Linked DNA regions of Homo sapiens. The protein of the gene in region 2 purifies or fractionates together with the protein of the main gene of each other region. This does not show direct contact. Each region holds a gene or a part of one and is shown on either strand. Other genes may lie near its edges. The genes, in order: TCF15 and RUNX2.

Region 1 (4,311 bases), on a different chromosome or scaffold from region 2:
ACAGAGGGCCACACCTAACCCCTCCTTCAACAGAAAGATGCTACAGGAAACTGTTTCCACGGCAACCCCAACTCCAGACTGGCCAGGATGGGAGGGAGGTGGTGGCTCAGGGTAAAGGAACGGGGTCTTGGGTCTTAAAGCTCTTCTGGCCCACAAAGCTCAGAAGGGAGCAAGAGCTCCCCAAGCCAGCCAGTTTTCTTCCAGCAGAGTCTTCAAGGGGCCATAGCTGGCCAGGATTGCCCCTCTCGCCTATTCCCAGAGGAGACCGTGGGGTTGAGAGCATGGTTTCTACAGCCAAATTTGGCTGAGTTCTTGGTCCCATAGACAGATCCCAGGGAAGCGGCCAGGCCCAGGGGAGGCCCCTGTGAGCTGTGGGACAGGCCTGAGACCTGCAGAGAAGTCCCCCAGCCTGCTTGCTATGGGGGTGGACACATGACAGTTACAGGGACTTCCCTCTGTAACCTATCCCACGTCCCAACCAGGCAGGCCTGAGTTTGAATCCTGGTTCCATCACTGACTGTGTGTCTCTGCGCCACTGGCAGCACCTCTAAGCAAGTGGGGATAACCACAGCGCCTCATTCCTGGCTGTTGCAGGATTTTAATGATAAATCATAAAGAGCGCTTAGCACAGATCAGTGCTCATGAAGGCTGCTGTCACTGCTGTTATTGGCCATTGTGCTCCCCCTCTGCACTCCTGCCACTTTTAACCTCTTCCCTCTTCCTTCTCTAGGCCTGAGCTCTTGCTGTATGCCCCAATCCTAGAACACCCTTTCCTACCCCTTCATCGGCCTGCCCCTGTTCTAAAGCATCCTTCAGAAATGAGACACAGAAACCCTGTCAGCACTCACCCTGGGTTGGAGGCTTTCTCTGGGCTCTGAGAATCCCTTTGTGCTTCCCCTCCCCCACCATCAGACCACAGCATCCTCATCTTCATCTCCCTGCCCTGACCCTGGGGCTGTACTGTCAGGTCCTGACTGGTGGAAGGGTGGGGACCTACAACCTGCTTCTCTGGGGTTCTCAGAGCCAACAGAAGGCAGCTGTTGGGTAGCTAAGGGTTGCTAACTGGAATGAATGGGTGAAAGGCAGTCAGGGAGTATCCCTGAGAGCCCCTTCAGGCCCTCCCATCCCAGGAAGCCTTAAAGGCCCACTCCTGGCTTCTCAGCCCAGCCTGGGGCACTGACAGGGGCCCACAGCTGGGAGCAGCAGGGACCCTGGAGAGGGCACAAGCCTGAGGCTAAGAAGACCGACGATTCAGGGCAACTGAGGCAGCCAAGTGTTGAGCAACCAGGCTGGATATCTGATGAGCCAGACAGAGGGTGGTCTCAGGCCAAGATGCAGAGGCCTCCGCAGAACAGGGTGGAGCAAGGGACCAACGGCAGCTGTGAGAACCAAACAGCAGGGAGTCAGGGGCCTAACTCCAATTCCCCATGCCCTTCCACTTGGCCACCAAAAGTCAGTACTCTCTCAGCCTCAGTTTCCCCGGATGTAAATGGTAGCTGCTGGAATACAAGTTGTTAGACAGGCTTCTTTACTGTAGGAAAAGCCCAGGCCAGAAAGGCACACGGTCGGGGGATGAAGCAGGTTCCTTGGAGCCTGGGCAAGGTTTCAGCCAAGAGGCCACCTCTGCTGCCACACAGCCCCCGCCCACCCCTACCAGCCTGATCCACTTTCTTGCCCAGGACACATTGCAGGAGCTGCACACCAGCTCCCTCCAGCTGACCCAAGAGTGCCCTCTCCCAACACCACGTCCTTTTGGGGGCTGGGGACTCTCAGAGGGCCCCTTCTTCACTCCTACTGCTCATCCGCTGGGTACCTCAGGCTCTCGGTTGGCGGTTTGTGGCCTCCTTTCTTCTCAGTCTCCTGCTCTTGGGTTAGATCTTAGGACAGGGGACAATTATTTCAAGGTGGGGGCAACACACACCGGGCAAGCCCAGGGCCAGCGCCCCGGCTTCCCAGCTGAGTAAATGTGGGCAGGTGATCCCATCTCTGATGCTCAGATCCTCATCAGGATAAAATGGGCAGAAAAACTACCTGCCTGAAGGGATTCTTGTGAAGGCAAAAAAGTGGATGTGGAGCGCATCGGCACAGAGGAAGACTCCATAAAAGATGGGTCTTTGTTACTCAGTCCTCATGCCGTCTTCCCAGCAGGAAGGAAGTTCCAGCACACCTTTCGTTGGAGGGGATATCCCACACTGAGCAGTTAAATCAGACCCGAACTCTGGGTTTTCCCGCATCCTTCTGTTTGGGGGCCTGGGCATTAAGTCAGTGGTTCTGGGCTTGGGGTGCCGCACCCAGCACGAATTCCACGTCGCTTCCCCCTGGCCTCGTTGGGGACCCCTGCACCTCTCCGGTTCCCGCAGAGGCGCTGCCCCCCGCCTACCCCGACCTGGCGGCCGCAGCGAGGGACGCAGCACACTCACCCCCTTGCGCTGGTTGCTGAGGCAGAAGGTGCAGATGGAGCGCGGCTGGCGGCCGCCGTCGGCGGCGGCGGGGACGGCGCCCTTGGCACTGCCCGCGGCACGGAAGCACGGCTGCCCGTCGTCGGCCGAGTCGCCCAGCAGCAGCACGTTGGCCAGGTGCGCGATGTAGCTGGACGCCAGGCGCACGGTCTCGATCTTGGACAGCTTGCGGTCCACCGGCTCGGTGGGGATGAGCGTGCGCAGCGCCGTGAAGGCCGTGTTCACGCTCTGAGTGCGGTCCCGCTCCCGCGCGTTGGCCGCCTGCCGCTGTCGCACCACCACCACGGGGCCCGCGCCGCCGCCGCCGCCCGCCCGCCGCCCGCCCCCGGGGCCCGGGCCGCGCCGCGCCGCCTCCGGGCCCTCGCAGCAGCCGAACGACTGGTCCGACGCGTCGCTCTCGCTGCGGTTCTCCTCGTCCTCGCTCAGCAGCCGCACGTCCGGGTACAGCACGTGCGCGCCGACGGGCCGCAGCAGCGCGAACGCCATGGGCGCCGGCCGCGTCCCTCCGTGCGCCGCGTCCCAGCGTCGGCCGCGCCCCGCCGTGCGCTCCCGCGCGCTCCCACGGCCCCGCCGGCCCCCGCCTTATAGGCGAGGGAGGGGCCAATGGCAAGGCCGCCCCGGCCGGGGGCGGAGGGCTCCGCCCGGCCAATGGGGAGGCGTCCGCCCGGCCAATGGGGAGGCGTCCGCCGCGCCCTGGCCAATGGCGACGCTCCCACCGCCTCCGTCCCCCAGGTTGAAAGCGGCCCGGGAGCCGGCGGCCCACCCCGAAGGCCCCCGTTCCCGGCTGGCTAGCCCGGCAGATGCTGGAGGTCTGGGAGGGTCGGCCGGGGTGGGCCCAGATCCGAACTTTTTGTCTCCAGCCTGGACCACCTGGGAGACGCGGGCAGATCCCTTTCTCCTCTCTGGGCCTCAGTTTCCTCGTTCGGAACGTTCAGATTGCAGAGAAACAGCTAGTGTCTGCCTGCCCTCCAATTCTAATCCTGTAGTTCTGCAGCTTTCACGTGCGTAAGAACTGGGGAAGGGGCTTTTGCTATTACAGAGTCCCAAATTGCTCCCATTCTGATTGAGCAGTTCTGGAACGGGCCCAGGAACCTACATTTTGTAACAAGCCATTGGTGATAGTGGTGGTGTCCGTGGAGAACACTTGGAGAAAAGCTATAATCTTTCCAAATGAGGATTCGACAGTGTCTTGTCCCTGAAGACAAACTTAAAAAGAAGAAGAAAAAAAAAAGCAAAACAAAACCACAATACACAAACACCAGTAGTTCGTTCGTTTTTTCAACAAATATTCGTTGGGTCCCTACTATGTGTCAGACATGGTTTTAGGTCTGAGGATACAGCCATTAACAAAATAAATTCTTCACCCTCACGGAACTGACGTTTTGGTTAAGGAACTACTGTGTACCAGACTCGGTGCTATATACTCTATTGCGCCCAGCTGAGGCTGCAGGATGGCAGCCCTGAGTTACAGGTCAGAGAGCTCCGGCCTTCAGTCGTACAGGTGGGAGTGGCGGCGCTAGCTCCAGCCTGTCCGGTTTCACTACCTCTTGGAATCCTACCACCACCATCCCATCACACACACACGGGCTATCTTTCCTCAATGCCTGCTTGCCTTCTAGAAACCTTAGATTGTTCAGCCTGACGTGTCCTCTTCAGAGAATTGCTGAGCCAAAGGTGGTTGCCGGGGTCTCGATCTCACTCGTGCCTGCTGCTCAGCTCTCTCCAGGCACTAGCTAAACCAGCATCCACTTGGCCTTGAAAATAAGCCCGAGTGGCAGCCGGTGTAGCAGACAGAGCGCAGGGAGTGGAGTTGAAAGGCTTCTAGGTGCATTTTGGCTCCTCTGGGCGTCTG
Region 2 (3,820 bases):
TTGTAATAATGATTATAAACCAGGAAAAAAATTGTAAATTATGTAACTGAGGTACTATAGTTCTGTCATGAAATATAATCAAAATTTTTTTGCATGTAAGTTAACAAATGTCAATCTATAAAACCAGTAACAGGGATTAGGCATCTACTAGGAATTTCAAGACTAAAATAATCAATCTTATAAAATCCAAAGATGTTATTTTCCAGTTATAAACTTAAGTAACAATAATTAAAAACTGATATCAGTTAAACAAAGTATTAGAGTTTATAAGGGCAAATATGAATGGAATTAATTTGCTAATAGATTCCTATTTATAAATATTATCTCAAAGAACAACTCTGGCTTGAAGCTAAACAGGTATATTTTCTCATTGACCATGTAACCTGGGTAAACAATTTAAGCATTGAATTTCTAATTTTTCTATGATAATTGCTAGAATTAACTTTCTTTTTAAATTTCTGTACTGAACTTCCCAGTTTAAGACTTCAAATTCCCAATATAATTTTAAGTGAAAAGATATAATTTTACTAAATGATTACAAATTATTTAAATGTATCTAAACAATGTGAATTTACTTTGAAGCTTAAAAGAAAGGATCATGACATTTATTTTACTATGTAATATGGTATTACATTTTACAACATGTCAACCTACTGCTGTATCACTATAACGATCCTAGAAAATCCATGTGTATCAAAAAGGTACACAGTATGGATTCTCTTCAATCAATTACAATTTTATTATAAGATACTTTAATGCAAACACAGCTCATTAAAATACATTTTTTTAGATAAAAGTAAATTCTCATTTTATTTCATAAACTGTCAGATTACAGATATCTGTAACAACTGTACAGGATCACAGAAAGGAAACTTCTTTATGCTAACAATCCACATTATATCAATCACTGTGTTTTCCATAAAGCTGATACCTGTGAAAGTACATAAGCATTTCATACTAAGAACCTAACACCCAATTCAAAAATATTAAGACACCATGAAGTAATCTATGAGAAAACTCCCATCAAGACAACAGCATCTTAACATTAGGCAGGATAAATGGTTACAAAAGATAATCTAATAAGATTAATTTTTTTACCTCTCATGAAATCTGTAAAGCATTTCGGTAATTCAGCTTTTGACAAAATGCAGAAAAACTTGCTACTGCTCTTATAAGAGTCAATGCAAAAATGAAATATTTAAGAAGATAATGCCTATGGAGATACTACTTACAAAGACAATGTGCTACAGTGTATTTCTAAAGAAATGGAAATATACAAGTCAATGTACTCCAACTTTTGATCATTAATCCAACCTCCTTTCCACAGAAGAAACTCCTTTTCACATATTATAAACTCCAGTGTCCACCCAGAATTCTTCTATTCTCCCAGTTTTCAAAACCAAACACATATACATTATTTCTCTCTCTGTAATTTAGAAGGAAAACTTAACATTTTAAAAACTTTTTACCACTAGTAACCACTTCATTTTAAAAGTGTTAGCTAGATAAGGACAATGAGTACTGTCACGAAAGCTTTATTCTTGATTATGTAGTAAAGATTTAACAATATCCCTCCCTTATAACACGCATAAGCATATTGCAGAATATTTTTGTACACCAATAGGACTAGAGAAAACACATAAAGTGATCTGTTTTTAACATTATCACTCACAAGTACCCAGGAAGAAAATTTAGAGCCATGTGCTGATTATTAGGCTTATTTTTATTTTCATAAATATTCTGGTCCTATCAAGACACAAGACACACTAAAATCAGAATCTATCAAGATACACTTAAATATTTTTTAAAACATCAAAATACTTGGCTTAAATTGCTAAATTATTTAATTATTAAATGGTTAAACCACTCTATATATGTACAATAAATTTTTACTCAGACGTATTCAAACAATTTTCTTGACTATAAAATTAAATCCTGTGCTCCAAGAAATACTGTAACACAGTATTTTTAATAAAGTATTTACTTACAAAGTAAATACATATTAGATGTACAAAAAGATAGGAAGTGATTTTCTATAATATAACTTCATTAATAATACATGTAACTCAAATTTTCTACCTCTGTTTTAAACTTTCTTCATTCAAATACATGGTCAATTCACTTAATTTTTTTGATCCAGAAACATCTTAAATGCTGTTTTAAAGGAAACTTTAATAAAAATGGCCTTACTCATTATTATAAACTGGCATAAAAATATTTTTTGAAACTTGCTGTGAAAACAGTGTGATCTGAAAACTTACATACTTAAAACTTATGACATGAACACAAAAAATGCAAGCAAATGCATAAAACTACATAGCAACAATAATATAGTGAGAAGCCAACCCCGAACATAGGAGATATACATATGCTTTCTAAAATAAAAGCTCAAATTAAAGCTTGCCTTTTGAACTGCCCATATGAACAGAACAACATGCCAATGACTTACAGAATTTTTTTCTAAACTGGCAAGACTAAAAAGAATCACATCCAATCCCTATTTTGCAATTATAATGTGTGATACTTTCTTTAACCATAAGACTGTCATTTATTCTAAATTTGCTGGAAAAGCTTGCCATTGCATTTTTCCTGTACGTACCTCTTCCTTATCAATTATGGTGTATCTCCAGCATTCGAAGAAAAAAAAGCTCCAAAACTTTAACTGCATTTAAAATATATAATTAAATCAATATATACAAGGGTTACTCTAAAAATACTCATTTCTAGAAGGCCAGAAAATCTTATTTTTTTAAGCTGATGCATCTACACATAGAAAGCAACTTTTAGTAAGTTCTTTTGCTACGCCATAATGATCTGCTCCAGAAACTCAAGGGTACCTAAAACAACGGACTACCTGTTCTAGCCATGCTTAGGAATGTGTCCAAATCATTTTTATTGATTTAACCTTTATAGGAATGCTACATATCCTCAGAGCAAAACATTTTGAATGTATTTATAATATGATACACTTCTAGAAGCCATGAAAAAGAAAGCTAAAAACAAATCTAAGACGCCCCTCCACTGTTGGTTGTTATGTTTATTTTTGTTTATTTGAAACAAATATTAAATACATATTAAATAATTCTTTTTGCGAAAACTCACTTTGGTACTACTGTAAGTAGAAATAAGATTTTATTTTTTTAGAGAAAAAGTATATTTAAGTAAATTCTAACTTTAAGAAACAAAACTCCTGACTTGACAATGATGTTATCACCTATAAATTTTAAAGGATTCTAAATGCTTCTTTCATACTCTAATTACACATTAATCATGGAACCTATAAACAAATCAAACTTAAACTTACAGAATTTAGTCTTTATTGAATAAACTTAAGTTGTACTCTAGTTTTCATCCTCAGAGTTTACAGATAAAGTTCTGTGTAGCCTATCTTTCTAGCTTTCTGTAAGTTGTACTTTACAAATGGTTTCAACAGCTAATGCCTGTATTAGGTATGTTTGCCAAATAATTCACAATATTATGCTTCCTCACATTATGGTTCAGCATTTGCTAACTTAAACATCACCTCTAAAGAAGTTATACTTTCACTGCAGATTGTTCTCTCAAAAAAGGCAAACAACTTTTGAGCATTTCCAGATGTAGCTCTCATAAAAAAAAAAAATTATAGGCAACTTCTCAAGAAATTCTAAAATCAGTAATAAAAATACAATAAAACTGGTATCATTTCTGATTACTTCAAATGATCACATATAAGCTTATATAAAAAGCTGATGGTACTATATTTTGAATTAAGAAACTTTGACAGCTACAAGAGCACTGATTTCAGGTAGCTGCCAGTAGGTAAAACAACCAAGTGTATTTC

Evidence for each region.
Region 1: the proteins of RUNX2 (region 2) and TCF15 purify together in Homo sapiens (affinity purification with mass spectrometry; one large-scale study listed by BioGRID and IntAct). This does not show direct contact.

Annotation. Positions count from the first base shown.
Region 1 is NC_000020.11:607,293-611,603, forward strand, and holds the start of TCF15 (transcription factor 15), read right to left. Parts: upstream 3,018-4,311; 5' UTR 2,946-3,017; coding exon 2,421-2,945; intron 1-2,420. UniProt on the Homo sapiens protein: Early transcription factor that plays a key role in somitogenesis, paraxial mesoderm development and regulation of stem cell pluripotency. Essential for the mesenchymal to epithelial transition associated with somite formation.
Region 2 is NC_000006.12:45,334,738-45,338,557, forward strand, and holds part of RUNX2 (runt-related transcription factor 2), read left to right. Parts: intron 1-3,820. UniProt on the Homo sapiens protein: Transcription factor involved in osteoblastic differentiation and skeletal morphogenesis. Essential for the maturation of osteoblasts and both intramembranous and endochondral ossification.